Linked DNA regions of Homo sapiens: region 2 is linked to region 1. The links come from fine-mapping of genetic effects on gene expression. A gene starts in region 1. The other region holds a variant in brackets. All regions are shown on one strand. Distances are between the middles of the regions. Region 1 holds the start of JPH1 (junctophilin 1). Region 2 overlaps JPH1 (junctophilin 1).

The links. PIP is the estimated chance that this variant, and not a neighbour inherited with it, causes the effect.
Region 2: its variant is fine-mapped to the expression of JPH1 in esophagus mucosa (GTEx, PIP 0.95).

Annotation. Positions count from the first base shown.
Region 1 is chr8:74,313,029-74,329,808 of GRCh38, forward strand. It overlaps JPH1 (junctophilin 1), which reads right to left and starts at 8,512. Exons shown (of 6, transcript NM_020647.4): 1 at 7,881-8,512; 2 at 1,833-2,592. The coding sequence starts at 8,259. RefSeq lists an enhancer at 7,579-8,469 and a silencer at 8,563-8,662.
Region 2 is chr8:74,284,526-74,301,305 of GRCh38, forward strand. All of the region lies in intron 2 of JPH1 (junctophilin 1), which reads right to left. Among named protein-coding and RNA genes, the nearest start is that of JPH1, 29 kb to the right of the region's middle. RefSeq lists a silencer at 11,233-11,372 and an enhancer at 16,543-16,780. The variant AGACAAAGTC/A (reference allele first, on the strand shown) is at 9,862.

The DNA of each region.
Region 1 (16,780 bases):
AGATCATCTCTGCATTGCCAGTCGCTTTCTGTTATACAAACTCCTCCAATGGAAACTAATGATAAGTCGTTTGTTAAAGTGTTCTGCACAGGTTCATTTTTCACCTCCCAAGACTGAGCTGACTTTAGCATGTCACTAAGTTGTAACAAGAAAACATGGAAGAATCCAAGTGTGCATTTAAAATTAGAGGTCAAGGCCTAACAAATGTTTATCACTAGGTCTAAAAGTAAGCCAGCAAGATTAGATGTGCTGAGTATCTGATCTATAAGCAAACTGAAAAGCAAAGTAGATCCAAAACTGTGATCTGAAGTAAAAGATGCCTGGTAGAGAAGACAGGAGAGAGAGAGACCCTTCATTAAAGTTTGTGCTGATCAACAAAAAATAATAGCTTTGAAATGAAATTAGTTTGGGATAAAGATGAAAACCTTGAAGACTTTTAATATATAATATAATATATATCTAAAAGTAATGCAAAATATGCAACCTTATTTAGTGGTAGCCCTACTTATTTTTTAAGTAGAGGAATTAAAAAAAAAAGAACTCTAGAAGTACTAAGTTGAACCATATGATGTCACCATTTTTTTTTGTACATTAAAAAATTTGAACATTGGAAATTTCATATGGCTCCATCAAAAAAAAGGGAGGTTCATTAATTCAATGCCAATAACAAAAACCTGAAGACATGCTAACATTTTGTGGTTTCAAAAGGGCGTTTACTTCTGTGGAAGAGTGTTATTGAAGCAGAAACAGGATTTTTAATATTCTATGCTACATTTATGCTTCAAGTCTTACAAAGCTGTGGCTAGTCAGTACTCACTTAAATAAGACTAAAAATAAAATTTTCCATTTATTACCACACCTTTTTCTTTTTGTCTCACCTATGATATCCTTCCCTAATAGAACTTTATTCCCAATAGATTTTTCCATCCCTCTTGCTGGATCCCTGAAACCAGCTATTAATGGTAAAACTTCAAGCACGTAGTCCTTCTGTGCCCACACATACACCCCACTTGTCAATCTATTATTCACCGGTTTTCTCCTACTCACTCCAGCCCTTCTCTACTGCTCTTCTTTCTTCCAACCTTGGCACATTGAGAGTCCCATCTGTCCATGTCAGGTTGTCAGGTTCCCTCCACCCCTTTCCTTTTAATACACCAGTGACCTAATCTCTTCTGCATAGAATGTGGCGATTCTTGTAGGTCTCTTTGCCTTTCCCATGTAGCTGTTGTTTTTAACAATGCATGCCAGATTTTGTCATGTTATTTTCCACTTTTGCCATATGTAGATTTTGGTGGCTGTCTCAAAACCAATTTTACCTATAAGACTTCATAAACAGAATCTGAATTGTATAAGCTAGGCTAAGTGTACATACCTCCGATGTAAATATCAGAATAAAGGTACACATCTATACTAAGTATGTTTCTACGTGGATTGCTATTTTCTTTTGGTACACAAAACACAATGCTTGCTATGGCAGCATTTCAGAGGTCCTTCTTACAAAAAAAAGAAAAGAAAACAGCAACTTTCCGGGCTCAGGAAGATGAGCACAGGGTCTCAGTGAACTCCCTCACGCTGTTAAATATGAGGGAAGTAATTTAGAACAGGAAGGGGAGCTCAAAGTGCCTTCGACATTTTTTGATGATGGGAAGTTTCAGAACAGTGCAGGTACATTTCTGACTTTGATTCTACTGAGTGTAATCATTTTTCACCTTTGATTTTTTAGTAGTTGTAGAAAGCATTTAGCGATGTCACTGGCAGATAGACAAACATAATATTTGATACTCCATTGTTCTGACCAACCCAGCAAAACCAACCACCCTGCATTTACTTACCTTGAATTTGCTATTTCCACTTTGGTTCTGGCCATGGCAGCTGCCCTTTGGGCGCCTTCAATTGCTCTGTCCACCTTCTCCCTAGTTTTTGTATGTCTTATTGGTATAAGCTGCTTCCTTATCCCACGGACCAGAATATTATTTTTGTATTTTCCCTCTTCTTTGGAGCCGTCAGGAAACACGGTACAGCCATATCCATGCCTCTTGTTATTTGCCCACTCCCCTTCATACTTCATGCCATTGGAGCGCTCGCTAACGCCGAAGCCGTTGCGCTTGTCGTTCTTCCACTCGCCCATGTAGGTTTCCGTGGTGGTGGCGTCCACGTGGTCTTCCACCGGGCAAAAATCACAATCTACATCGCCAAAGCTGATCGTGGAGTTGGCATCGCTGGAACTAATTCTGCTCATGGCCGCGTCGCTGCGGACAGAGCTGCGCTTGCTCGAGATGGAAGACTTGGATTCGGACTTGCGAAGTTTCATGCTTCCAAGAAGGGAGCCCCTCCGGAAGAGGCCGCCCTTCTTCTTGCCCGCTAGCTCAGCGTCTGCGTGGAAGTTGAGCACGAAACCGCCGCGGGTGCCGGCCGGGCTGTCGGCGGCGGCTGCGGCGTCGTGGAGCACGCTGCCATTGCTCTGCTCGCTGCGCAGCGAGGCCAGCGAGGTACGCAGCGGTGAGCGGATCACCGTGGCCATGCCGTAGGGCACGCTCTGGCGCACGCCGTAGCCATGCCGCATGCCTCCGGCCCACTGGCCCTGGTAGGTACCTTGGAGAGACCGCAAGAAAGCACCGTGAGTCGGGGGCAGAGCTGCACCGTCACCTGCACCATCCAGCGCACACTGGCGCAGGCCTGCCCAAGGTCAAATCTGACCCATTTCCAAGTCAACCCTGGGGGATACTTTGCATCCACTTGTGAATCCCCGCCCTGTAATTTTGGGTGTAAGGCTTTAATGTCATTGCACAGAATTTTCTAGTAGTCAGATAATTTTTGCTTTTCATTAAAATTTTATGCAAGTATTTCAGAGGAAAACCACTACTTTCTAATACAAAAAGTGAACACTGGGAAACAACATTCTCCTCTGAAATTAATGCATCAAAAATTCCTCTTGGGAAGAAGACAAGGAAACAGTAGAAGATGAAATGAATTCTATGTGTAAATTTTATTCTAATATTACTAATTTAGCTGGAAAACTGTAAAAAATGACTTTTAGGTCTATGTCAGTATAACATTCCAAGAAGTATACAGGCTTAAATCGGAATACTTGGGACACAGTCATCAAATGAACGTCTTAAATTTTCTGCTACATTCAGCATCTCTTTTTTTAGTGTAGACAAAACTGTTGAATATTCAGGATTATCATTTGAATTTGGGTGAACCTTTTTGAGCTAAGAGAGAATCGACAACCACAATATATATTATGAATACAGTGAATTATGAAAAAAATGAGTAATTTAACATTTTTGTGCTTCTAAGTGAAAAGGCCAAAGCTTTGTGCCGTATCATTTGCCAAATCTCTGCATCCTCTATGGATTTCCCTAGCTGCCACTGCATTGTGAATCACACCACAGACTAGAAGCACCCTGAGGGCAGGAATTACTTCGTATGAGAACACAAAATTCTCATGTGTCCTCTGGTCTGTGTTTGTGGATGGAGGGTGTTTGATGACTATGTTGACGGTAAAAAGCTATGGTGGCTAAAAAGTATACCCTTTACTCTTGGAGAAACTGATGTAAGGCCAGATGAAATCTTCTACTGTTACCATTTTGGACTTCATCTCAGAGGAAAGGTATATTTGACACTATCTATTAAAATGTTGATACCAGATGACTCTGTCAACAAATATTATGCTTTTTCATGATAGTCTGTCATCTAGAGCATTTGTAGTGAATTTTTTGCTACTAAATAAATAAGCAAAGACATTAAAAAATAACCTGGTACAGGTTTTAAAATAATCTTAGGAGGAAATGAATGTTAAATTAGGGAATTTAGAAGTTTCTTTTCAAAATCAATTTCCTTTAATTAAGGGTAAATTTTAATTTACAGTATCCCTCAAAAGAAGCTATCTGGAAAATTTAAAATGTAATTACTTCTGTGTTATTCATAACAATTCACAATGTCATAGAAAACAAATAATGATTAGTCTGTCTTGACCTCTTTCCATTTCTGATTATATAGATCTACCCTGCAGTCACTTTGCATTTTATATTTCCATGCACAGATTTCCATTGCATGGCACATATTCATTTTCAAAACACCGGGCAAAAATGCTAGTGGTTTTATATAACTGTGTTAACAATGGCTGGTTATTTCATTGCACTTAAAAGTTAAAACCATAATGACTCCCAAGTCAACGGTTTTGACCAATTTCAAGACTACCTTCTCTTTTTGTTCATTCTGGCATATGTGACACAGGCAATAGTAGATATACAATGAAATACTAAGTGGGTCTGGTACTGTAAATGTCATATTCTGGGTAGATGTGAAGTCTTAACTTGACATCTATGAACTTCTGAGGAGGTGGGTGGCCCACAGTTTTCTCTGAAAGATTAACTCAAGAGGATAAGATAGTCATGTAAAACATTTCAGGCTAAGAAGCTTCCTATTGAATACTGGCCATCTCCAAATACCGCCATCTTAACAGGAATGGGAATGGAATTATTAGGAAATTTTGACTTTGACTTTTCCTTTGCCTATACAGGTAAAATTTAAATTCTAGGATGAAAGTTTCACAATCTGGCTTGAAGATACTAAAATAAACCACCTTATTTTTAATATTTTGTTGGTTAAAAGAATGCTATAATCACATCCTCCTAACTTTTGTCTATAGTGACAAGTTAATTTTGCTAGAACAATTTGCAGAGATGCTGTTTGATATCAATAAGTATCTGCACTTTTAAAACACAGCCATACCATCTTGGTAAATGTTTAACACTGATGGAAAATTAACAGCTAGTTTCTTTAAACTGTTATCTCCAAAAATAAGACTAGTACAGTATTTAGAATTTCCAAAAAAGTATGGCTTGAAAATCCAAGCTGTTTAAGGCAACAGCAATAATTAGAAAGTTTAAGTCTCTGCTTAACTGTCAAATAGGGAAGGGGGGGACAAGAGCATTGGCCACATTCCTCTCCTATTTTGTTAAATCACAGTATATGAAAGAATTCCTCCACAGAATTGCTAGAAACCAATTTGCAGTCAAACTGTTAGCAGTTCATCTGAAATTTAAAATAGGTTTAGTTTAGTCAATGAACCTAGAATAAGAAAGGGCCTATTTCTTTATGAAGCAGGTGGGTTCCAACTTCTCCCTGCTGCTCAAATAAAGTTCTAATTAGTTCCTCTTGATTCCTAAAATGTAGATGCATATTTCACAAGTATAAAAATTACTTTTACCAGTTTTAAACTGTGTTCATTTGGGAGCTAATTTTTTAGATTTAGTCATTTTAACTACACAATCTTGTAGTGGAAGGCATCCAGTTTAGGAGTTTCAGTCAAATTTGCACTGCACTATGCCAAACTTCAGTTTATATGCTCCGAATGGGTATGTGCAAGTATGCATCTAGTTAACAAAACGTTGTGTTTTCCCAGATATTTTCAATAGTTTTATGACAAGTGAAAAAACAAAGTACAGATCAGAATTAGCACAAAAAATTCTGGGCACCTAGACTTGGATTTCATGAGTATGATACTAACTTATTGTTAATATTCAGGGGGTTTCTATTTCAGCAACATGTAATACACAAATCACTAATAAAATAAGTGATACGTCTCACATGGAATTACTGCTTCCTTCCTCCTCCAGTTTAATGTCACCACAAAAAAACTCGGAATCAGATTTTCCCTGAATCTGATACAGGGTGTACAGGGATGGACATGTGGCGATGGGGAGAGTGCAAACAAAAACAAGCTAACTCCTTAGTGAGAACAGCAGAAAACAAGCTAATTTTTTAGTGATATTCCTATTTTGGCCAAAACCTTTGTATGAAATAAGTTACAGCAATAAACTTGCTTTAGACTCCCTTTTTATGATTGAGAACTTTCTAATGAAATAGTTACATATGAGACAGTAGAAAATCTATTAGCATAGAGTAGACATTCAGTAGTGATTTTTAAGGTTTTTCTTCCTAACTGTAGCATATTAGATTTTTTTTTTTGGTAGAAGAAGAAAACCACAGTACCACCCAGGATGATGCCAAGTTTTAAGTTTTTTTTTAAGTTTATTTTAAAACTGAAGGCAGATTATTCATAAAATCATTCTGGAGACTTATTTGGGTTTCTACGACATGTACACAGACAGCCTCTACTGTGCTATATATATTTTGATTACTAGGTATAATGAATACTCTAAACCAAGAGAGTGTGTTTAATGAATAGTATCTTTAAAAGGAGACGATTTTTAACCTTCCAAAACTGAAGAGAACCATCCCTGGCCTTCTTAAAAGATTATAAAATAATGCACACATTTAAAACAATAAATTTTGCCTTCTACTTTTGAGCATGGAATTTAGTTATATAGTAGAGCTGGGGCCTCCAACAAAATCCAGTCACAAACTGACATATTTACAGCGCTGTCAACCAGGTACTTTATGCCCATTCAGAACATTTAAGGGTCCCAATTAACTACTGTGAAACTCGGGACTCAGCCCCACATAAAACTATTAGAGAACGTTTTTTTCTTTTAATCCATGAGAACCATATGCTTAATTTATACTGTAGGATGAAAAGATGTCCTTTTTAGCAAGTTCTACCATTCTGCCATTTTGCATTTGAAACACGGCCCAAGTGTTCTGACTAAGTGAAGTGTACAAATTGTGTAAGCTTTTATATAAGCAATGGTATAAATGGGGTTGCAGTGGGCTGGAGAAACTTTTAATTGCATCCCTTTAATATCCTCCAACTCTGAGCTGCTTAATTCCAAAAAGTGATGTCGCCTCCTACAACCCTTTTCAACTAAATATGATTATGTTTATCAGGAAATGCACTTTGCTAAAGCATAAGCTATTCATGAATATCTTTCTCAGCGTATTACACAAGGAAATTCATCAGGTTTTGACACCTGTTTCAATAATGTATACTTTTCCTAATAAAAGAGGAACTTCTGTCCTGGTATATACACAATCTCTTTGGCAAATATTGTTAAATATTAAAATAAGGTGATCTTTGTTCACAGCCAGGAATACTGGCTTAGGTCACACATAATGCAAATTATTGTTTCAGTATTGCCATTCTCAGGAGTAGTAGCTGCTAACTTAGCAGCTATAGGAACACACCTGCTAATTGTATTCTTTAAAATGTAGACTTCATTACCCATTTCTAAAATATCTTCCTAGTAATTTGTCCAAGATCTCCAGGTCAGCAAAGACTGCTACTCTTTTAAGACCAATACTTTAAGAAACGGAATGAAAACTAGGAACTCACACACTCTGAACTCCACCTGCATCAGGTGGCCTTTCTGCTCCCATAACTAGGACGTTTCCAAATGCACCCCCAAATAAGGTACAATTCCCCAACATCCTAGTTACGGGGTTCTGGCTTCTATCTTTAGGCTACTGGAGGACCAGAAGCGAAATACGACTCCACGTGAAACCAATCCCGGGAGCGGTCAGCACGGACCGCCAACCTCACCCGCTCAGGGTGTTCGCTCTAACTCCACGGGAGTGGCGATTTCAAACCCGGCCGGGAGAGGGAGGGATCAGGAACGTAATGTGACGGGCTCAAGTGACAGCGTCCTCTCTCCAGCCCAACCCTCCCGGGCGGCGCTCCCTCCCGGTGGCAGCGCAGCGCTGGCGCCGGCCAGGTACATTCACGCCTAGCTCCCCTGAGTGTGGATACACGGCCCGCTCCAAGAACGGGGTCAGATCCAGCCCTCGCGCCCCAGTCCGGTCCCAGCGCCCTCTCTGGGAAAGGCGGGCGCGGGCGCGGGGGTGGGAGGCGCCCCCAGGTGTTTTGGCGGGTTTCCGGACACGTGCGCCCGGCGTCCTCCCCGCTTCCCCGCAGCCGGGGCAGAGCCCACCGCACCAGCTCGCGGAGCAGCCGAGCCGCCCGTTACGCCGCTCACCTCCGTCCCCGTAGGTCTCCACGCCGTACCCGTCTTGCAGCCCGTTACTCCAGGTACCCTCGTAGCGAGCGGGGGTGCACAGGCTCTGCCGGACCCCGTAGCGCCCCTTGAAACCATGTGACCACTCCCCCCGGTACATCCACTTGCCCTTCGTCTCCACCCCCAGCCCGTGCCGCTTGCCCTGCGCCCAGTAGCCCTGGTAGGTGTTGCCGCTGGGCCAGGTGTAGCCTCCGACCACCTCGAAGCCGTGCGACCAGGAGCCCGAGTACTCGCCCTGGCCCTTGGGCCCCGTGCAGATGCCATGCCCGTGCGCCTTGCCCTCCTCCCAGCCGCCGCAGTAGGTGCCGCCATCGTCGAAGTCGAACCTTCCGCCCGTCATTCGGGGGGCAGCCCCGGCGCGCTCCCCGCAGGGGCACGGACGCGGGCAGTGCTGGGCACGGCAGGGTGTAGCTCGGGGGTGGGGGCCCGGCGGGCGAGCTCACGACAGCGCCCTGGGCAGCTCGCGCTGCCGCTCGGCTCCAGTCCGACGCCGCCCCCGTCCTCCCTCCTCTTTTGCCGCCGCCACCGCCGCCTTCCTCCTCCTCCTCCTCCTCCTTCGCCGCCGCCGCCTGGGCCAGCGCCGCGCGCGAGAGGACAGCCCAGGTTCCCGAGCGGACCTTCAGCTGCTCCCGCCCGCCCACGTGAGCCGGGCACCGCCCCGCGCCCGCCCCTCGTCCCCTCCCCGGGCGCCGAGGCCCGGCCCCGCGGCGCTCCCGCCCCACCGGGCCCTGCCCCCAGCCCCGGGAGCCGCCGCTTCCTCGGCAGGCGGGCGCGCGCGGGGACCGGCTGGCGCGCATGTGTTCGCGCAGTGGGATGCCGGTGGGAGGGCGAGTGTACCCGGGGACGCACGAGAATCCCTGCCTGGAGATGAAGGCGCGGCTGCCTGTGTGGGGGCCGCTCGCGGGCGCCGGAGCCCCCGGTGTTTGTGTTTGGGGTTTTTCAAAGTGGTTAAGCTCCTGTGAGTGCGGCCACGTGTGTGTTGAGGGAAAACTCATTGTATGCGTGTTTGTCTGCATGGGGTTTGTAGTTGCATTGTTTTCGCATTCCAACTTGTGTACTGTTGCATTTGTCATGCTCAGCTGTCATCGTGAATTAATATCGCCTAGATATATGTATGCATGTGATGTAAATCTGCGGCAGCCTAGATATAATTGTGCAGAGTGTTCTTTTACACCTACCCGTTTCAAAGCACACGTGTTTGCATTTATTTAATGAAGACACTGAGGGTGAGCAGTACAGTTTGAAAAAGCACAGAATATATTGGTTAGTTTTTTATTAATAGTGATGAAGAGGATGTTTTCAATCGGCCTTTGCAGTGGTACAGGATATTCCTTTTACATTAGAGCCTGCCCCCTCTCGTGCCTCGTTTGTGCTTCTTAACAGCCTTAGAGATTCTTGAGCCTGGAGCTGTGTGCCCAACAGGTAGACGGCTCGGTCTGTGTACATTGTATAAGTGTCTGGAATGCACACCTCTCCACTGGTATCCACTGTTTAAGAAAGTAAATAGAGGTTTGCAAGGAGGAATATGGTAAGTAAAGCACTGCTCTAAACTTGCAAAGAAACTGTGACCTACAAAACCAGGGACAGATGTCAGCTGGTCTACTTTCTAGCTACAACACTGCTTTGTCGAATTCACTTTAGGCAACTCTTCTAAACTTTTAAACCTCCATTTCACCATCTTCTGAATGGGACTAACAAGATTTGCCTTTCTCTTTCTATATTCGGTAATAACTGAGTATATTGTGGCTGCAGTGCCAAACCAAAAATTAGAGATTTGGTAATAGGCAAGTTGGATCAGCATTGCCTCTGGTGAGAGAAAGCATTATTCTCCACCTCACCCTCAAAATACCCACGGGAGAAACTTCTCCCACTTTCACAGCCTAGGGTCTTAGTTTGGCCTCTCAAGGAAACTGATTTGGAGTGTATTCCTGCTATTTCTTAGGCTGAGAGGCCTTTGGGTGACTATGCGAGCATCAGAAGCTGCCAAAGGTTCTCTCACTAAGTATTTGATAATCAGATATAGATATAAGGACAGGTGTCAGGAAGACAGCCTGGGAAAAAGTAGACTAAACTGCACAGAAAAGGAACTGAAATTGACCTTGATTGCCTCTCTCTCAGGACGAGAGCCGACCTTTCCTACTTATCTGGCTGAAAGACTGAAAGAAAAATCTCAGTTTATGCAGAACCAAATCACCAAAGAGAATTAGAAGCCCTCATCCATGGCACTGCCCGCAGAGTTGCCAGGAATAGTGCTTACCCTAGTGGCCTGAAATAATTATGCATCTCTCGAAGCATCTTGTCCTGGACTGGGGATTGATTTAGGCCGCTGGGAAGATGAGGGCCAGGGCTTTGCGGCTGAGCCATAATTCCATTTCCCTGTTATGGGATACACCAGAATCAGGAGCTAATGTAGAAAGATGCATTCCCATATATTTTGAGGTTCTGTATGATATGAGAAAAAGTGTGGTTGCTCAAGCCAATATTTTGAATGGGGGAGTCTCTTTCTAAACTAGACTTCCTCATAGAGTAGTCTTTGTCCCTTTGCCTTTTTTTTTTTTTTGGATCCACCCAGTGTGTTAGGACCCATATATGTTCTTTAAGGGGATAAATTTTGGAAACCTTTATCTCTTTATTTATTACTCTTCCTAATTAGTTGTCATGCAAATGAGGGATTTTCTGGAACACAGAGCACAAACCAAGTTTCTGGCTTCTGTAATGGATATCTAGTCTATTTGTGGTGGGAGGTGCACACACATCTGGATTGAATATGAAGATTTGGGGAGGAAAAAAGACATGGCCATTTATTGCTTACTCTTTTCCTGTGGCTATCCCTAATAGATGCCTTGCAAAGAACCTTAATTAAAAGTGAGACTTTACCACTAGGTATGTATGATTAAATTTTAACTAATCTTAATCCTAGCCTAGCTCTGATGTTGACTTTCTTTATGAAAGAAAGTTGGTATTTTTGGTAAATTACTAAACAATTTTTGGCAAATAACCATATAAACCATGCTTCCATTTACCAGCTGCCATCACAATGGAATGTTTACCCAGTCACGAAGACATATGTGTTAGTGTAAGTGTTCAGGGTCAATGGTAACGGTTGGAGAAGACGGGGAGAGAATACTAGGAAGAGGAAGAGATGCTGAGAGTGATGGCATAGCAGATAGTAGACAGTGGAATAATGTTGCAGTTTAATAGTCAGGGTTAGTAATGTCCTTATTTTCCCTCTCCCTCTGAACCTTTGCCCTGGATAAGGGGGAGTTGAATTTAGCTTTAAGAAGGGATTAGTAAGAAGAGAATGTGAATGTTGGTTTGACAGGTGGAACGGGGGAGGCCATGAAAATCCAGGGGCCAGCAACTACCCTATAGTTTGTTTTCCTCCATGTTAAAAACCTAGTTATTATATATTTCCATTCTAAAAAATTTTATAACATATTGTAAGCTATTTTGAGTGTGACTATGACCAGTTAACAACATATTAGTAAGGATGTTTTGCTGGAATTTAATGATGTCTTTCAAAAAATGAAGGTGTATTTAAAAATTTATTGGTGACTTCATTTTATTTACATAGTAGATTAATTATTGGCTGGACAAGGTGGCTCATGCCTGTAATCCCAGCACTTTGGGAGGCTGAGGCGGGAGGATCATTTAAGCCCAAGAGTTTGAGACTAGCCTGGGCAAAATAGGAAGACCCCATCTCTAAAAGAAAAAACAAAAAAACAAAAAAACCCCGACTGATTATTGAGAGTTTTTAATAAAAAATTTACAAATGACAAAAAGCTAATCTGTAGGTGTTTATTGTCTAAAAACCATGATTCAAAGTGTGTAGAAAAACACATACAATTAAAATCACTTGATATATAAGTCAAAAAGTGTTACCATCTTGATTTATACAATCAAATAATCAAAATTTGAATATTTGCAATAAAGAATTTACAAACTCAAGAAATTTGTCCGTGATAAATATAAAAATTAAGAAATATGGTCAGAAACTTTGCAGGCAGTGTGAAATCAGAAGAGGAAGAGAATTCCAAAATTAATGGTCTTCAAGTCTTTTATGGCAACTACTGTATGACAGATACCATACTAAGCTTTTTTTACAGGTATGAATTCATTTAAATCTCATAGTTGTAGATGATTTGTACTAGTCGTACAACCATTTCACAGAAGGAGAAAATAAGGTTTAGCACATTCATAGGTACAGAATTATTCAAGGTAGAAATGGTTGAGGTGGGATTCAAACCCAGGTCTGTGTGACTTTAGAGGAGGTTCTTTATTCCTGTCCTTGATTGGAGAGAGGATGAGAACACATTGAGAGCTTTCAAATGCTCGGCGGAGAACAACAAGGTGCAGTAAAGATGACTTTTATTTCTTATTTTTTTAGATTAGCTGCCTGGGTGAATGATAATGTTGCTGTCTAGATTTTTTTTTTTTTAAAGGAGGAAGGAGAGTAAATTATGGGGGCTGCAGAAGATATATTTATTTAGGAGACAATGATCCAGAAGTATACCCCAGAGATGATCAGTAGGCAATTCAGTAGGAGAGGTCAAAAATTAAAAATAAGTAGGTTGATAAGTAAATAATGCCCATTTTTCTTCTTCCTCTGACAGCCGTTGTTCAGTAACATCCCCTTCTGAGACTTCCACTATTCACTCGGGCCTCGGACATAGCCTGGACTTGACTTTGATCCAGCAAGTAAGGTCCAGTAAGGCCAACTCTCTGGAATTTGAGAGTATAGGTCCAGCTGAAAATTGCAAACTGGGATTTTACAATTCCACTCTGACGGCGTTCCCTCATTGCCACTCTCACTGAACACTCCGTTGGTTCTCCTCAAAGTCCTCCATGCTACATAGCACAACTTTTCCCAGGCAGATTCCTGATATTTATCACCATCCTGGAGCCCATCTCCACTGCAGCTTTCTCCTGCTGAGCAGAGGACACTGTCTTCTGTCTCACAGAGGAAGAAGGAGCTAGGAACACTTGCACCTTTCCTCTCTTCAAAAACTTTACACAGGTTCCCATTTTCTTCCTCTTCCCATTCACCTGCCTCCAAGAGGAAAAGATAGCCTTTTTCCTCCCCAAGTTCTGGGTCAGTTCCTTCTCTCTCTCTCTGTCTTTCTCTTTCTCTCTTTTTTGAGATGGAGTCTCGCTCTGTTGCCCAGGCTGGAGTGGAGTGGTGCAGTCTTGGCTCACCGCAACCTCTGCCTCATGGGATCAAGCAATTCTCCTGCCTCAGTCTCCTGAGTAGCTGGAATGATAGGTGTGTGCCACCACAACTGGCTAATTTTTGTATTTTTAGTAGAGACGGGGTTTCACCATGTTGGCCAGGCTGGTCTCGAACTCCTGACCTCAAGCAATCCACGCGTCTTGGCCTCCAAACCTTCTCTCTTTTAAATATGTTTTAATTTCTTCTCTTTCAGCCAACAAACAAGCTCTTGTGTTTTCCATATTAAAACAGTCCTAATTTGCTGGTCTACCATCTCCTTAAGTCCTCTATGTCTTTTCTTGAAACTGCAGATCTTGAAAGAGTGTATTCTGGTCTTTATGTCCCTGCCTCCAATTTACGTACTACTTGATTTGGATTCTGTTCTCACCGGTCTAGTGAAGCTTTTCTAGCCATTAGGGACCTTCTGTTTGACAGATATGATGGCATATCTTCAGTTCCTATCCTGCTAGTGGCAGCAGTGAATTTTATACTTGGGGACACTCATCTCCTTGGCTTCTATGATGCCCATATTTGTGCTTCTCTTCTCCCTCTTCATCTCCCACCACTTCAGCTGTGTCATTCTCTGTGTATTTTTCATCTTCTTATCCCTTTCTAGTCTCCTTAACTTTATGCTATCTGTTGTTTTCCAACTATTAGCCTTATGGTACCAGAATTTTGTATAATTGCTGGATATTTGTTGGCTTATCTTGTATAACTAGGCAATCCTGCCCTAGAAGCCAAGAGTCTGATTTAGAAATAGTCTAATTCTGATCTAAAAACACCAGCTGAGCCTATTTAACTTTCAAGGGCAATGCTTTGGTTTCTTCTCATGATGCGTCCCTTGTGGCCCTCTGCCTCCTCTTCCTAATGGGGAAAGCTCCACATAGACCTGGACACCATCCATGTCTAATGATGAGGCTCACAGAGGGTTTCAGGAAAGTTCTAACAATAAAAAAGGTAACCTCAGATGAAAGGGAGACTTGAAAGAGTGGTAACTTGAAGACAGAGTGGATTGCAGGTCTGTATTAGAGGTGTAGTGCCTGAACCAAACCACAAAATGTGTACGTATATGTATGTATATGTGTGCATATGTTTATTCATCTTATATATGTGTACATGGTTACTGTCTTAGGTATGGAGACATAGAGAAGTAAGGCTCAGCCTTTGCACTTAAGGATATAAAATATCTCTAAAGAGACAGGAGATGAAAAAGAAAAATAATAAAAATACAAGGGAGATAACTACAAGTAGCCAATAAGTGCCAAGTATCGTAAGAGTTCAGAGGACAGAGTGATTTAATGGATTGCTATGGTTGAAACAATTTTCAGTAATCATTGGCATGTTGTTTAACTTTATGGATATAGTAAAGGCATACCCTTCTAGATATTTATAATGCAATGATCTTCTTGAATTAAGAGGCACCCTACCAAGGGAAGGAATGAAGGGAATGAAGGTTTACCACTCTTTCAAGTCTCTCTTTCAATCTGTGATTGTAAGAACAGAAGAGACTTCCTGAAAAAGAAATCCCAGGCATCCGAGGAGACATGGCGATGAGTTCATCTCTCATCCTACATTTAAAATCACAACGCTTTGTTCTGAAACTATGACTGAAAGGCAACTCAGTATTTGAAATTGCACGACTTGGAGATAGCAAGGGAATCTAAAAGCATTTTGAAGAGTGTCAGTATTGAGATGTTGTTAAAAGTTGTAAAAATTGATGAGATAACCTTTTCATAAAGCAGTTGCATAAAGAAGGGAGGTACACAATATTGTTGAAAGCAAAGGAGTAAGTAGCTACTAAATGACTCATAGCTGAAGGAAAGAAAAACGCAATCAATTATTAGACAGTAAAAGAAATGTAAATTATAATTGAGGAGTGAATGGTTCCAAGAGCTCAGGAATGGGATTTGAAACAATAGCCAATAATAGAAGAGGCTTTCCTCTAACTGAATGACAAGGGGGGATGTGGTATCTTTGCCAAGAGTTGCAGTACCAATCTGCATATCAGCTCAGCATGCACACCTCAAAGCCCTTGTAGGCCATTCTTCAGATACTGATTGCATTCCAAATAAAGCTTAAATTCCTCTTCCTTTCCTTCATCCCACTCTAGCATTTTTGTCATCTCTTGCATTTTACATCATTTTCATGTGGCAAGCACTTTTTAAAGCTTACAGAGACATCAGAACACCCAAAGAGTGGCTGTGGAGGCTCACTGCTCAGATCTGCCTTCAAGAGAACCTACAGTTTGGAGGGTACTTGGCAAAGAGACTCCAGCTGCCACAACTTCACATCTCCTGTGGGTTTTGCATCAAGGCCACTGCCCCTGACAACCCCTCCAAGTTAAGGGTAAATTGATGCATCTTGCATCCTCTGCTACAAAAAGGAAGCAGAACACCTGGTAGGCCTACTCTTTGGTTCTGGAAGCAACACATACACACTTAGACACTACTTCAGCTTATGTGCTAGGTGACACAGAAGGGAGGCCACCAGCTTTGAGAGGGCTCAGACCAGGAAGGGGTTTTTCTAGAGGCTCAGGTTGTGATGCAAGCAGCCCTGCCTCTTGGGCCATATGATCAGGCAGATCCTATGGTGTTGGAGGTATCAGTGGTGAGAAAAGATATATGAAGATTATGGCAAGCCCCTGTGGAAGAATCACAGTTGCAAGTCTATGGGGATCTAAAGCAAGGATCTATATCATCTGCAACAGGCAATCTTACATCTTTTGAGAAACAGTTTACTTGAAAGTTACTTGGCCTTGGTAGTAAAGGAGTGCTTGACCATGGGAAAAAGTGCCTGTTCATTCAGAATTTCCCATTATGAGCTTGAGTCCTCTTGACTCAAGTCTTGACAGACCCAGAAGCAATCTATTGTGAGTTGGGACTGGGATCCCCAGGAGCAAGCTGAGGGGGACCAGAGGGCATGAAAAGCTGCAAGAACAGGTTGCCTTTTCTTGAGGGCTGTGTGGGACAGACCCTCATGTCCCCCACCTGGGTTCCACTGGTTCACTTCTCTGAGCAGATTGGGGTTTCAGATAACTAGCTGAAGGGGGAGGAAAAACCTTTATCTGGTTTACGGTTGGATGAGCTCAGTATGTGGATGTAGCTGAAAATGAATGGAGGCTGCATTACATCTACACTCAGGAGTGGTCTTGAACATCTGTAGACCGGGAAAATCTTTCCAGTGGGCAGAACTGTGAATGTTGAACCAGTCATGTATTTTGTGTGGAAGGGAAAGTGGCCCCAGGTGGGAATATTTATATAGATTTCTGAGCAGTGGCTAACAGCGTTGCCTGGTCAGAGGCTGGACAGAGAAGGATTGGAAGACTGAAAACATGGAGGTCTAGGCTAGAGACATGTGGATGAACATATGGGAATGGACACAAAGTGGAAGAGGCACTGAAAACCCAAGTAGATGACAGGACTCAGCCAGTTAATGTCAGCCTTCCTCAACAGACATCCCAGATCTGGAGCAAGGGGCACATGAGCTTAGTTGCCTCAGTGGCAGAGATGGAGGTTGTACCTGGGCCCAAGAGCAGGGACTGCTGCTTATTGAGGTTGGTTTAACTACTCCTAACTTTGTAAGTCAGATCTGTTAGTAACAGAGAGTATTCCTTGCAAATATCAATCACCTACTTGGTGGTAAGTTGAGTATA
Region 2 (16,780 bases), 29 kb before region 1:
TCATCTGCTGACACACCAATTAAAAAAAGCGTCTCCATTATTGAAACAGCCTTTCCGACTAGCAACTTTCCTACAAAGAATAAAGATAATGATATTATAAATAAATCTGAATATGTTTACCTGGCAAAAGAATTCTCATAAGGAATAATACAAATTGAGTTCTAGTTCTTAAGGCTTTTTTCCCCCAACACTAAACAAATTATAATATTGTATATTACTACTCTACTAGCTTGGCTAAGCTGCATTTTTTTTTTTTTTCATAGACCGGTATGTGCTGGTATGGTTACTATTTCTTCTTTCTTTCTTTTTTTTTTTTTCAGACAAAGTCTCACTCTGTCACCCAGGCTGGAATGCAGTGGCGCAATCTCGGCTCACTGCAACCTCTGCCTCACGGGTTCAAGTGATTCTCCTGCCTCAGCCTCCTGAGTAGCTGGGATTACAGGCAGGTGCCACCACACCTGGCTGATTTTTGTATTTTTAGTAGAGATGGGGTTTCACCATGCTGGTCAGGCTGGTCTCGAACTCCTGACCTTGTAATCCACCCACCTCAGCCTCCCAAAGTGTTGGGATTACAGGCGTGAGCCACTGCGCCTAGCCTATGGTTACTATTTCTAACTGGAGATTTTTTTTTAAACCAACAGGCATTATGGTGTTGTAAAGAGCCTTACACTCAAAGTTAGTGACTTGATCTAGACCTGATTCTGCTATTAACTGCACATACACACATACACACACATATACATGAATTTTTCCATATAAATACTATATCTACTTTATGAATTTTTCCATATAAATACTACATATAAATACTATATGTATTTAAAATATTTTCTAGAAGTCTAGCATGTGAGCCGGTACTACTTCTAGAATGAGGAAGCTCTTTATGTAATGATATGGAATGAAATCCAATATATAGTATATTATTAAATTAAAAAAAAGCCTAGGATGCAGTGTTTTCTGAGCTAGAATCCTTTATCTGCAACTCCAAGATCTTGAAAGCTTTAAAAATCAATATTTCCTTTTTATAAATTTAGTGTCAAAACTTGACAGTAACACCTGAATGCAACTGACATGAGGCTATTTATGATTCTTCTTTATCCCACCTAGTGTGATTATTCAGTTTCCCTGGAGAATTAATGTGTCTGATTACTTGGTGTGCTCAGACCCCCTGGGGATATTATGTAATCTGCATTATATGCAACATGTTGCTTTTCTAAAATCCAGTTCTGAATTCTAAAACATATCTGGACCCAAAAAGTTTTGGATAGCAATTATGGACTTGGAGCATGTAACCATCTGCATCAAAGAGGATAAAACATATTTCTATATATGTAAATAACAGAAAAAGTTTTATGAAGATACTTCACTGCCTTCAGGGAAAGGATTTGGTCAGCTGGAGTGAGGAGGAGATTTATCACTCAGTCTATACCATTTTGTACTTTAAAATTTTGAACCATGAACATGTATCATTTATGCAAAAAATACGGAAAGTTAAATGTTTTAAAAATCATCACTTGTAAATACAGGGCAAGAACCTGGTCTATTTAAAATACATCCTGTTAACTAGCCTTTCATATGCAATGCTTCACACCCATTGCTGGTGGTTACCTTGATCCATATCCTACTCGGTCACCATAAACTCCCATTTCTCTTGACTGTCACCTTACACATTTCCAAGTCTTTCCGATGCAACTGTCCCTTCCTTTAGAACACTGTTAACATTTTTTTCTGCGTTTCTTCTTAAAATTAATTTTTAATATTTATAATTGACATAATGATTGTACACATTTATGGGGTACAGTGTGATGTTTCAATGAGTGTATACATTGCATGATGATCAAATCATGGTCATTACTGTATTTACTACTTTAAACATTGATCATTTCTTAGTGGTGATAACATTCAAAATCTTCTCTTCTAGCTATCTTAAAAGTATACACTACATTGTTGTTTGCCAGAGGCACCCTACTGTACAACAAAACACCAGAACTTATTCTTCCTAACTGTAACTTTGTACCCATTGGCCAACCTCTCCTGATCCCTCTCTTCCCCACTACCTTCCCCTACAGTTCATTTCTTAAATGAAACTTGTATCTCCCTAACCTACCTGATTTATAATTATGTCTGTAACTCTATAAAACATATAAGTAATTGGCCAGATACATGCTTACTTATTTCTCTTATCTTCTCCATTACACTGGAAATTCATGAAAGCAGAAATAAAATAATCTGGCTTTAAAATTTTTACTTGGTACAGTCTTTCTTACATTGATGGTTAGTTAAATGGTGTGTATGTTTGATCTTCCTAAAGTGCCTTCCAGGGCTTGCCCAAACAGTAAGTGAAAAATATTTGCCAAACTGAATTAAGCTTATAAAACACAATCATTTCCCAAGAAAATGGAAAATAAAATGGAAAAAATAATCAAGGCAGGCTTTTGAAGACTCACACAACACCTGTAATGACAAGAGTCTATGTAGGAGATAGAACCCTAGGCTAACAGGGAGCTACTTTTAATTTACAACTCTCAAGAGCTGAAACAGCCACTTGTGGTGGAGAAAACCCAGTAATGCTTTTGGAGCTCTTGCATGCATTAGATATGGTTTAATAAGAATTACTGCAAGTTGGCTGGGCACAGTTGCTCACACCTGTAATCCCAGCACTTTGGGAGGCTGAGGCGGGTGGATCACCTGAGGTCAGTAGTTTGAGACCAGCCTGGCCAACATGGTGAAACCCTGTCTCTACTAAAAATACAAAAATTAGCCATGGTGATGCGTGCCTGTAAACACAGCTACTTGGGAGGCGGAGACACGAGAATCGCGTGAACCTGGGAGGCAGAGGTTGCAGTGAGCCAAGATTGCACTCCGGACTGGGCAACAGAGCGAGACTCTGTCTCAAAAAAAAAAAAAATTACTGTGAGTTAAAAATTACATTTTTTCTTGTAATGTTAAGGAAAAAAGGTTATCTACTGATTGTTATGAGCCCCAAGGACCTAGGGTTGAAATCTTTAAAAATCATGGGCTACTAAATTTAGAAACAGCCTAGATCTTTTTCTTAGAATTCTTGAAATCACTTCAAAATGATTTTTGAGAAGGTCACTAAATTGCATTAGTTTGCACATACAATTTAACAATTAGTCTAGTTTCTTTTTTTTTTTTTTAAGGCAGAAAGCGGAGACTTTTAAAGAAGGGTGAAATTCCACTCAGTGACGTGAAATTTCCGTCTGACTATACATTTCATTCACATCCACTGTTTTGGCACTGGTAACAAACAGTTGCATTCAAAACCAGCAAAAATGAAACAAAATAACTTTTTTTTTGGAAATTAATCTTATTGAAGAAATTCACTTTCAAACTATGTCCCTATAATCACAAACTAAAGAGAAAACATCTATGTCGTTTTCAATACAAATATGTACTTGTTTTAGCTGACAATATTTTTTTTTTTCAGCTAGAAAACCCTTGACAACAATTCTAAGTCACCAGTCTCGCTTTACTGCAAAGAAAATTAACTCCAGGGAAGTCACAATTTATTGGATGTGTTCTATCTGCAAGGTATACAATTATTAAAGAGAACTGGCTGGACTCAGTACAATATTGTCTAATAAGTATTACACCAAAACAGAGGTCTGTACTGAATGCCATGGAGAAGAGGGCAGATGGAGGCGGGTGGAAAAGCAGCCCCAGGAGGGGCTTTGGCGAGGACAGGTTTCATCTTCCCATCCTCCGTGGGTTGCTAAGCCTCTGCCACCCTCTGCAGCAGAATTTCAGCTGCACCAGCACTTATGCCTTGCAATTGGCTGTGTACTTATTTGTCTCACCCAAGGGCTGCCTCTGAAAACCCATTTCTTCAACAGCATGCATGTCATCAGCAAGGAGTAAGCTCTCAATTAACATCCAGTAAATGAACTAGATTGATGAACGACTTTGGGGTGAAAATGGGGAAAGTAGAGCCAGACATCCAGAAGGACAGAGGATCACAGTCTATAAGTGGGGAGGTGGGAAGAGTAAGAAAATGGGGTTGGGCAGGAATGGCAAATGTGGGCAGAAGACAAGAAAACGCAAGAGGGAGAAGGAAAGGATAGTTAAGGAGCACAGGAATAGTCAAGGAAATGCTTTACTAGGAAGGTGAAACACAGAGTTAAGCCCATGGACAATTTCTCAAGAGAGATGAATGCATGTCATCTTTGGTAAATACCAAGGTTGGTGCAAAAGTAACTGCAGTTTTTGCAATTAATTAGGTTGGCGCAAAAATAGCAATTACTTTTGCACCAACCTAATACTAAATAAACAGAAGGTGTGAAACCACAGACTTATGTAACTGTAACAGTCTTCAGTTATTTGAATAACCTTTTGTTTGCACATTTCAGGTAAAAGCTTGTAGATATTTTAAGTATGTAGAGAGCTGACTTGGCCTTAAAAATGACACTCAAACTATGCCCTTCTTTTGTGCATGGAGTGAAGACTTTACCTAAGAGTTTAGTGCTGGGCCAATATGGGCTCACCCATCTGTGAAGGGAGTGGGGAAGCTGCAGCATAAACTCTGAAAGATACAAGCAAACTAGTCCAAGGAAACACATCTGTACTAAAACCACAGGACCTTGTAAACCAGGCAACCTTCAGTAACGGGAAAGGACGTTTTCTATAGAAACCTTCCTGTTTTGAGAAAATGGAGCAACAGTCCAGTCAGATTTGATTTTCATTTCTTTACGTGATTAATAGGAAATGGCTACTGTGGCTTAACACCATTGCAGTCTGGCAATGCCTGCGTCCAACCCACTGACACCACTAGCTACAGCATGACCTTCTTCAGAGAAAGGTAACACCACCTTAGCGAGAACAGACGGGCTAACATATTAATAATGGTGATTAATGCTTTGACTGAAAAATAAGCAGAGACAATTCTAAAGGTATTTAAATGAAAAATGTGCAATAAACATAACCCTGCAGTAGCACACTAAGAACTGGTGTTCCCACAGTGCTGCTGGTGCCCCCAGCACCTGTATTGGTGCCCTTTTCTCATCCTCTTTGCTCTACTTAGCACACTCTCTCCCCATTTCTACCTGCCTAAATCCTTGTCATGGTTCAAGATCCAATTCTAACTCCCCTTTCCCCATGACCTTTCCTGATGCTGCCGCATGGATAAGCCTTTTGCCCTTACGAACATTACTTAGCACTTAAAATGTTCTGAAATAGCTCTTATTATTTTGAGATACGTCCCATCAATACCTAGTTTATTGAGAGTTTTTAGCATGAAGGGCTGCTGAATCTTGTTGAAGGCCTTTTCTGCATCTATTGAGATAATCATGTGGTTTTTGTCTTTGGTTCTGTTTATGTGATGGATGACATTTGTTGATTTGCATATGCTGAACCAGCCTTGCATCCCAGGGATAAAGCCAACTTGATCGTGGTGGATAAGCTTTTTGATGTGCTGCTGGATTTGGTTTGCCAGTATTTTATTGAGGATTTTTGCATCGATGTTCATCAGGGATATTGGTCTAAAATTCACAGCCAATATCATACTGAATGGGCAAAAACTGGAAGCATTCCCTCTGAAAACTGGCACAAGACAGGGATGCCCTCTCTCATCACTCCTATTCAACAGAGTGTTGGAAGTTCTGGCCAGGACAATCAGGCAAGAGAAAGAAATAAAGGAAAAGAGGAAGTCAAATTATCCCTGTTTGCAGATGACATGATTGTATATTTAGAAAACCCCATCATCTCAGCCCAAAATCTCCTTAAGCTGATAAGCAACTTCAGCAAAGTCTCAGGATAAAAAATCAATGGCAAAAATCACAAGCATTCCTATACACAATAACAGACAGAGAGCCAAATCATGAGTGAACTCCCATTCACAATTGCTACAAAGAGAATAAAATACCTAGGAATCCAACTTACAAGGGATGTGAAGGACCTCTTCAAGAAGAACTACAAACCACTGCTCAACAAAATAAAAGAGGACACAAACAAATGGAAGAACATTCCATGCTCACCGATAGGAAGAATCAATGTTGTGAAAATGGCTATACTGCCCAAGGTAATTTATAGATTCAATGCCATCCCCATCAAGCTACCAATGACTTTCTTCACAGAATTGGAAAAAACTACTTTAAAGTTCATATGGAACCAAAAAAGACCCCACATTGCCAAGACAATCCTAAACCAAAAGAACAAAGCTGGAGGCATCACGCTACCTGACTTCAAACTATACTACCAAGCTACAGTAACCAAAACAGCATGGTACTGGTACCAAAACAGAGATATAGACCAATGGAACAGAACAGAGCCCTCAGAAATAATACCACACATCTACAACCATCTGATCTTTGACAAACCTGACAAAAACAAGAAATGGGGAAAAAATTCCCTATTTAATAAATGATGCTGGAAAAACTGGCTAGGCATATGCAGAAAGCTGAAACTGGATCCCGTCCTTACACCTTATACAAAAATTAATTCAAGATGGATTAAAGACTTACATGTTAGACCTAAAACCATAAAAACCCTAGAAGAAAACCTAGGCAATACCATTCAGGACATAGGCATGGGCAAGGACTTCATGACTAAAACACCAAAAGCAATGGCAACAAAAGCCAAAATTGACAAATGGGATCTAATTAAGCTAAAGAACTTCTGCACAGCAAAAGAAACTACCATCAGAGTGACTAGGCAACCTACAGAATGGGAGAAAATTTTTACAATCTACCCATTTGACAAAGGGCTAATATCCAGAATCTACAAAGAACTTAAACAAATTTACAAGAAAAAATCAAACAACCTTATCAAAAAGTGGGGATATGAACAGACACTTCTCAAAAGAAGACATTTATGCAGCCAACAGACACATGAAAAAATGCTCATCATCACTGGCCATCAGAGAAATGCAAATGAAAACCACAATGAGATACCATCTCACACCAGTTAGAATGGCGATCATTAAAAAGTCAGGAAACAACAGGTGCTGGAGAGGATGTGGAGACATAGGAACACTTTTACACTGTTGGTGGGACTGTAAACTAGTTCAACCATTGTGGAAGTCGGTGTGGCGATTCCTCAAGGATCTAGAACTAGAAATACCATTTGACCCAGCCATCCCATTACTGGGTATATACCCAAAGGATTATAAATCATGCTGTTATAAAGACACATGCACAAGTATGTTTACTGTGGTACTATTGACAATAGCAAAGACTTGGAACCAACGCAAATGTCACTGTGGCACTATTTACAATAGCAAAGACTTGGAACCAACCCAAATGTCCATCAATGATAGACTGGATTAAGAAAATGTGGCACATATACACCATGGAATACTATGCAGCCATAAGAAAGGATGAGTTCATGTCCTTTGTAGGGACATGGATGAAGCTGGAAACCATCATTCTCAGCAAACTATCGCAAGGACAGAAAACCAAACACCACATGTTCTCATTCATAGGTGGGAATTGAACAATGAGAACACTTGTACACAGAGTGGGGAACATCACACCCCAGGGCCTGTCGTGGGGTGGGGGAGGGGGCAGGGATAGCATTAGGAGATATACTTAATGTAAATGACGAGTTAATGGGTGCAGCACACCAACATGGCACATGTATACATATGTAACAAACCTGCACGTTGTGCACATGTACCCTAGAACTTAAAAGTATAATAATAATAAAAAATTAAACAGAAAAAAACGTTCTGAAAAACACAACTGATTCCCACATGGCACTTACTCTCCACCTTGTATCACAGTGATGTGGAATGTTCCACTACTAACTAATATGCCACTTGAGCGCTGGCATTATTCCATGCTCACTTGGAACCCCCTGAATACCCAGCAGTGTCTACTCAAGGAAGCGACATCAAACGGCCAATAAGCAAGGGGCTTGGTCTAGGTCTTCCATGAACTGCCACTAATACACACTGCGGAGGGGTCTGTGGTCACTGACTTCTAGCTCCCTGTGTTTCCTGTGTTTTACCTAATTCTTCTGATGCCATTTTGCAGATTACAAGTTACCCAGCTGCATATGGGGGAAAAGAATGGCTTCAGTTATTTCCTTAAAGCCTAAACAGACACACTTACAAACGGGTAAAATGAAGATATTTTAATAATCTTAACACAGACGTTTCACACTGCTGTTAAAAAACAAACAAACAGAAAAGTAGTGTAAGGAGAATTTCCTACCTAACTTTAATGTTATTTTCTCATACTTTAAATTCTGGCTATTTCTTCTGAACAGGTTGATCAAAGCCATATGAGGTAGCAACACAGAAATGTAGATGTGTAGGTGGGCAATTGTGTTGAAAAGGGAAATCCAATCAAGTCCTGTTTAGCAAGGCAAAAAGCAAGACAAAGACACAGGTGTTCAGCTCAAAGCTGTTTAAACTTCATAGCAGATGGCAGGCAGGGGTGAATCAGGCTGGTCTGAGTTTTAAAAAGGAAGCCTCCATCAAAGAAATCTGTCTTTATAGCCACAGTTTGCACACACCCTAGAGCAGCCTTTGGGAACGTCAAACAGAGGTGTGGTCATACAAACCACAGGCTGGGATTCTTCCTCATATTTGTATGCAAAGTATTAGGAGAAAATAATTTACTCTTTTCCAGAATTTGGGTAGGAACCTGTACAGCTATCTTTCTCAGAGACCTGAGAGCCAATGAACTTCTACTACTAATCTAGTAACTGAAAAAATATATATTATGACCTGTATTTCACAAAAGCCTTGGATAATGCCTCAAAGACACTATTATATCCTTGGATAGGCCCAGTGTGGCAGCAGGAAAACAAATTCACCAAAAATCTCTTGATGTGACCCCATAAGAGTAAGAGCTCCACCTGCACAGAGTTTACTAGCGTTGGGCACCGTTCCAAACACTTAACACACACCAATTCATTAAGCACTCATTCTAACCCTGTGAGGAGGTGCCACTAACTATCATGCCCATTTTACAGATGGGGAAACTAAGGCTTGGAGAGGTGAAACCGGTTGCTCAAGGCCACTTAAAGTGACAGAACCAAGATCTCAAGTTGCACAGCTGAACGAACCACTACCCCATCATGCAGAAATATTTCAAAATAATTCCCTAAATTTCTCTGAGTAAAAACCAGGCTGTCATGTTAAAGATTTTATAGGCATGCTTTGCCTTTTCTGCCTTCTGTAATACTTGGTGATGCAGCTCACATTCACTTCTTTGATTTCTGGCAACCATAACTGAATTAGAGTTGACTTACCACTTCTCCTTCCAGGACCAGACTGACCATAAAGAGGGGAGGGCACTTTATCAGAGCTGAAACTATGAGACTATGCCAGGCTTGGACCACTGCCTGTGAGATATTTCTGGCAAAAATAGGATAGTCTGGACCCAACTTTTGGAAGACAAAGACACCGGGGGCCAATTGACACCAACCTCCCACTCAAGAGCCAGCAGCCCCTAGGTTGGGCATGGGGTGTCTCTTTTGTAGAGCGCAGACCAGGGTCCCCCTTCACTGCAGGAAAGGGCTGCCTTCATCTCAGCCCCGACTTCCAAAACACAATGCAGGCGTCACTCTGGTCTGTCCTTGGGGGCTGGTGGTGGGGGAAAATCCTGCACACCTGAGGGAACTCCTCTGAATGTGGGAGGCAGGAGCATGAATGGCCACAAGGGCAATTATGTGAATGTGCTCTACAGCTAGGGCCTGGGGACTTCTCTGTAGCCTGATTTCTTCTCATTGAAGATAAAGTTCCCCACGTGCCACCTGCCCTCAGCTCCTGCTCTTTCTGCACTTCTCTCAAGCAGCTGAGTAATAAAACTGATAAATCAAACCTACCTTATTCACCTCTCGAGCTTCATTTCTAAGTGAAGCATTTGAACACTGTCCAGGTAGACCAGAGACAAGCCA[AGACAAAGTC/A]GGCCACGGTGAGGAAACAGGGCCAAAAGCAGGCCCGGATGTCCCTGTCCTGATTCACGTACTACCAAGACAAAGCAAGTCAAAATGAGCACTAGGCACAAATTCTACAACAATCTCTCTTCTCACAAGAATTCTTCCTCTTCCTCAGAACAAATTTCTTTTTTGGTGATGCTCCCACACATTGTCTGAACCTCCACGTAGCTATTATTTAACTTCAAGCTGCATTGCTAGTTGTTTACATATTCATCTGTCTCTTGGTTATAAATTTCCTGAAGGATAGAGTCCGTATCTTTTTCATTTTGGTTTCTCCCAAGGCACCAAAATGTGTACTTGCTTTACACAGAGCAGGCATTTGGAAAATGCTGGTTCAAATGATCACAACATTTACTCTAACATGAAATATTTAGTGTCCACTTTCTACTTTAAATTTATTGACTCTTTAAATTTTCACAATGGTCCTCTGAGTAGCTATTGCTGTTCTTTTCCCATTTTGCTGATGAGGGAGCCTGAGACGTGGAACAGTTAGGCCATCTGCCCAACTCACAGCATTGGCAGGGCCAGGGTCTAAACGACTGTCTGGTGGCACAGAGTGTGTGCTTTACCACTAACCACACATGCTGCTTCTCTGTGCCCTGGACCTACATAAGTTTGAATGACAATAGCACTTTAGCAGGGAAGAAACAAATGAGAGCTCCTAATCCTCCATGCTTTTGCCCTTGCAGGTCCCTCTGCTTGGAAAGCTTTTCTCCCCTTTCTATTTCTAGAAACTCCTACTGGTTTCCTTCAGGCCCTGCTCAAGACTCAAGTCTCTAGAAGGTCTCTTGGTTCCTCTAAGTGATTAGGGACCCTCTGCTGGGCTCATGTATACATTGATGATATAGTCACCCATGTGACTATATGTGTGTGTGTGTATATAGTTCTATATGTGTGTACATATAGTTCTTTGCTATATCACAGCTCTCATCACCTCATATATTATACGCTGGCTTTCTCAATTTCTCAGCCCAGAACACTCTGAGGACGAACACTGTCTTTTCACAATACTTGGCATGAAAATATTTAACAATTGTTGGCTGTAACAGTTTATTTAGCACCTACTAAGTGCTACTCACTGTGCCAAGGGCACTCACATATACTTGATCTCATTTAATTCTCCTAAACTCCTGTGAGCTGAGTACCAAATCATCCCATTTTCTGGGTAAGAAATCTAAGGCTTAACAGATCTCATAGACAACACTTGAATAAAATCTCCCCCCTCAGCTCAGTTTAATAAGGTCCCAGAGTCTTTCTGGCATTCTTGGCCCTAAACAGAGGGCAGGGCTAGTATCCTGAGGAAAAGCAGGATATTCTCTTGCAGCTTGCCTGCAGATGGGTCTCTCGGGTTCTTGCTCCTAGGCCTTGATCTGAAACCTGTTCAAGGAGTGGGTACAGTCCCCAGGTCATGAGTCAAGAAAACCTCCAAAACTGCAACTCATTGGTTTTAGCTCAAACCACTCAGGCGTTGCGTGTGTGTTTTACCCGAGTCCTGTGAAATCACTATCACTAACCACAAAGGACTTTCAGTTACGAATAATCACCATTTCCACGAAAGGGAACAACCTGGTATGTAGCAATCTCAGTAAGGACACACACACACACACACACACACACGGAGTATTGGGCTAATAGATGAACTATCAGAAACCCGATTAAATCTTAGCCTAATACTGCCTATTCTAAATCTCCAAGGAAGAATATTAACTCAAAGGAGATAAATCAAAACCAAGTATTTGGAGTGCCTATAATGTCTTGGTAACTGTGCTGGGTCCCGTGCAAGGTATAGAAAACAGAGTTATTTTTATTAGCTATATAGTATATACTAATAAGCATAAAGTAAGCCACTGACATCTAAAAATGACCTATTCATAATTATCGCTTTCTTTCCCAGAGTGGTATAAGCAAACATTTTATTCTGGGTACAAACCCAAAGTTAGTTCTCATTAAAAATGATCCTAACTTGCTTTAGATTTATGCTTAACTATTGGGAAAAATATTTTATAGCAACTCTATCTGGCTTTAAAGTTCACTAGTTCAGTATTTATTCAGGCTTCTAAAAGTTATTTAGAATTTAAGTGAGCAGAATATCATATTAATCATAGTGATGCAATGAATGGGGAAAGGAGGAACAGAAAACTCAAAGGAAAAAAGTTCTTCAAAATGTCATGAGAAAATCCAGTTATGCAAAGCCTATTTTAAATTCTTAAAGGTCTTTATAGCTGCTTGATTCAGGGCCTGCAAATATATCAGCTTGCCTAAAAATTTCATTTTTTTCTACCAAGAAATCCCTCTTCCCTTTCTCAACTTAAGATATAATTGACAAATAAATATTGTATATATTTATAGCGTATAACGTGATGCTTTGATATATGGATACACTGCAGAATTATTAAATCAAGCTAATAAATATATCCAAGAAATCCCTTCTTAACCTCCATGGCTTGAAAACTTAAAACTTTTACATCTCTGGCTAACTCGAAGTCCACGTATAGACAGAAAGTATAAGGCATAAGCCAATGCAAGCTATGATTTTGCAGGAGAAATTGATACCTGAAGAGTTCAGGACATAAACAATTTTATATTTTGACTCATTTGTTCATCATTTAGTAAAAATATTTTTATCTTTACATATTTTCATGTTTGATGAACAGTAAAAAAAACTGCTGGTGGACTACAGCAGAACATTCATATAACTAGTATTTTCTTAACAGAAAAATCAGACTGCCCAACAGAGACTCTTGTACTTCATCAAACACACCCAACACCTGGCTGTTTCTTTGCAGGAGCAGGGTTGATCAGACTCCGACGGGCAAGGAGTCCTCTCAAGCAGGGACTTGCCATCACCAAAGATTTGCAGCTGGACTGCACTCCCGACCAGCTTTGGAGACTATGTAGATTCTCTATTACAAACCAGAGAGGGACGTCAAACAGAGTAAACATGTGACAAGTTCCAGCAGGGACCAAGGAACATAAAGATACAGATGGTACCACAGAACATAACACAAAACAGACCCTCAGCTCCCCTTGCTCTTGTTCTCAAGCTGCATCCAAGTGTGCTTCGCGGGACTCTTAACTCACTCACTGTTCTTTGCCCTACCGACTCCATGCAGTTAAAATGCCTAGTAATGTCCTCCCAGAGGTACAGCCCCAGACCACTGCATTTGGGGCCTGAAATTAGTCATTGCAAAGTTTTCACACTGCTTAACTGGTAAGACAAATATCTTCATGTCAGCCATGTGCTCATTCTTTTGCTCCATTTTGCACACAACTAATAAAAACTGGAAAATGCCTTTTCTAAGGCAAAGAAAGTTATAGATGTGAATTTCATTCTTTTATATAAACGTAGTCAGAGTCAACATGAAGAGTTAAAGCTTTGATAGTGTGTGGCTATCTAGATAGTGTGATGACTACTCTTATTACCCCTTAAATAAAAAGTACTTGCTAATTTGATTTTAGATGATGAAATTATATAGAGAAATTACATTTATAACAACAATTGAACCTTGTCTAGCATTTTGTCTTAATAGTAGCACAAAAATAATTCTCTGCTTCTTTCCACACACAGGTCATCATCTCTGCCTCTTCTTTAGAGATTTCTCTATTCCAGCCCCCTCTACTCACTTTCCTAATAATTGCTGTTATAAATGCCAGTGCCAATCTCCAATTTTGATGTATTCATATCCTCGGGAAGCTGCTAAGTGCTCAAGGCTTCAAAGTACTGTTCTTACTTGAAACTCATGTTATCTTTTTATCTATCACCTTGAATGTCCACACATCAGATTCACTATCTTTCTCCCCATAATGTCTCCATCAGCCTTTATGGTGCCACTTATGCTCTTAGCTAATTGTACTCACATCCTTAGAACGTTAACTCCCTTGTATACAGCTGGTTGTTGTATACAAGATGGGTTTTCCTTTACAAATTTCAAGGGTGCAGTTCTTTATTGCCTAGATGCATTTATTCATGTCCTTTATGATCTCATCCCCAACTTCTGCTGCTTGCAATCTACCTTGAGCACTGTAGCTAAAATCACTCTCCTCACATGTTGTTTTGCTCCTGTTAATAACTTCCTCGGCACTCTGAAACGGTTTCCACTTGTGTGTTGCATAATACCCTGGTTAGTGCTTTTCAGATCCTTTAATAGTCAGGCACCCCTTATCTAATTGTCCTCTTCTCTTGCCATGACTCAGCTGTACTCGACGGCACTGCAACGCAAAATCCAGGTGGGTTTGTTGTAAGACTTTTCAAAAGAGGATGAAGCTACAGGGTACAAATCTGACAGTAGGGCTGTAGCTAATATCTCCACCACTTTCCTAACTTTCCTACAACAGCATTCATTTTCAGAAATATGAGTAGTCATACCACTGCTGTTCTCCACAAATTTATTACCTTTCTGGATGTTTTTCCTGGTGGTAGAATGAAGGCACGAGAGACCTGTGTGCATATGAAAGATCCTTGTTTTCAGGTTCTACTACTGGCAATGGGAGCCATTACGAAACATCAACCCAGAATATCAGGAGAAGATTAAACAGGCTATGAAGCTAAAATTAAGACCTATTACAAAAAGCCACGAAGACGACACTGCCCACAAATAATGAACACTGGTGACCTTTACTGCCTTTGAGGGGGTTTTTTTCTCCTCGGGCTGTACATCATTAGATGGGGTCTTCTCCCACCTGGTAAAATTTCGATCCACTGTGAACAAATCTTCCCTTAGCTTCCCTTTAAAATGTTGCCGAAGGACCAACTTCTTTACGAAGTCATTCCAGAGCAACTCTTCCTGGCACCAGACACACTAATCATACCGGGACCTTCTTTATTCACCTCGTCTTTCTAATATTTCTCCCTTTTTCTCATTATTCAGTATTTCTTTAGGGTGTTAAGTGTAGCCTAAAGCTGCCTCCTTACATATTTTACATTCAGCCTAAAGGTTTCTCTGCACACCACGAACTATAACCTAAATGGAGTTGTATACAGATTGTAGCTTACTCTTGTGTCAATCACTGAGTTTTGGGCCAATCAAAGGGGGTCAACGATTCGAGCCGTGTTCAAATAAGGCAAATGACGAGCTGTAGCCAATCAGCTGTTTCTGTACCTCACTTTCCTTCTTCTGTCTATAACCCTTCTTCAACTACACAGCTGCACTGGAATCTCTGTACCCACTCTGGCTCGGGTGGCTGCCTGATGTGCGAATTGTTCTTTGCTCAATTAAACTCTGTTAAATTTGGCTAAAGTTTTTCTTTTAACCACAGCCACATATGCATATTTACATAGACACTGTTTATGGGGAGCGGGGTGCCTGTCTGAGGCTTGTTTTGTTTTTTCCCTTTGTTGGTGTATGCCTTCTATTTCCCTTGAAGTATCTTTAACATGTTGTCATTGGGTGCTGAATACAGTGGCACATCTTTAACTGTTACAAATATAGCAACTGTAATTTAAAGAAAACTTTTAAACAATAAAGTTTTGTAGCTGAACTTTTAACACCACAAAAGTGATTCATTACTAAAAAGTTTAAAGAAAAAAAGAAAAGAAAACCTTCAATATGTTCTTCTCGCCCTCGTTTTCACTTACGGAATTAAACAGTAGTGACTACTTACTCTAGAATCACATTTTCATAGTTCCAACAATGGGCTGAAAGTTACTCTGATCTAGCGAAGAGTTAGAATAATTTTTCAAAATGCTTTTACTGTCAAATTCACACAGTACCATGAAAAACAACAAAAACAAAATATCACTAGGCTATAGGCCAAGTAAAAGTCTTTGGAACTGCTTTATAAACAAGTCAATCCACTCCTTTGTTAATTCCTAGAAGACTAGCCATTTTGACGTTTATATAAACTATGAAACCTTCATGGAATGTGGCAGAGCACTAATAAACAAATACGGGACTGACTGAATTGCTTCGTGTTATTTTTTTAACTACCTCCCATGTACATGCATTTTCTCTAATTGACTCTAAGCTTGTGTGTGCGTTGTGGGGGGCGGAGGGGGTCAGGCCCACGCTTTTTCCTCCATTCACATCTAGCACAGTACTAAGTGTGTAAGTATTGATAATACTTCTGATATAAACAAGAATAACTGGTAAGTGAGTTGTGTGCGTGGAATGTTTACTGCTACTTCAAAATGGTTTTAATTTTGGTTAGAGGGTCCTAACTATAATCTTGTTCCGAAGTATACAGGATGACATTTTCCCTTTTATACCATCTTCTGATTGAGGAAAAATCTGGAGTTGGAAAAGTAAAATGTCAATGTTGTCTCACTACATTTACTAACTGAATAATTTCTATAAGAAGCATTGGTATTGTTATGTGAAGTCAGGTTCAAAAACAGGCGAAAGGAGAGGAATTCACAAAAGAGTAGAGATCCAAACTCAGGTTTTCTGTGACAATCTGGTCAAGTTTTCCACTTCCTCACCCGTTTCATTGATAAGAAAGAGAGACCCAGAAAGATTACTTGTTTCATATGTACTTGTTTCATATGAATGATGGAGCCTTACTGGCCCCCCGCCCCATTTCCCCAACCAGCCGTATACCGGGAATGAATCACTACATTTTCTAATTGAATAATTTATCACCCATATACTGGGAATGAATGAACCTTTTTCATTAACCTTAATAGGGGTATTAGAGTATCATCCACACAACATCTCAGACTTGCCTCTGTTCCTAACCCACTACTTGCAGTCCATCAAGTCCTGCTAATTTTATCCCTTTTGTCTCTGCCACCCTGCCCTCAACCAGGGTCTTTTATCACCTCCTCCACAGACCAGGCCTCCGGTCCTGGCCCCACTTAAATTCTTTCTCCATGAAGCAGGCAGACCATCCATTCAAAGGCAGATGGCTCCCTTCTCAAATGCCTTTGAAGACTCCCCAA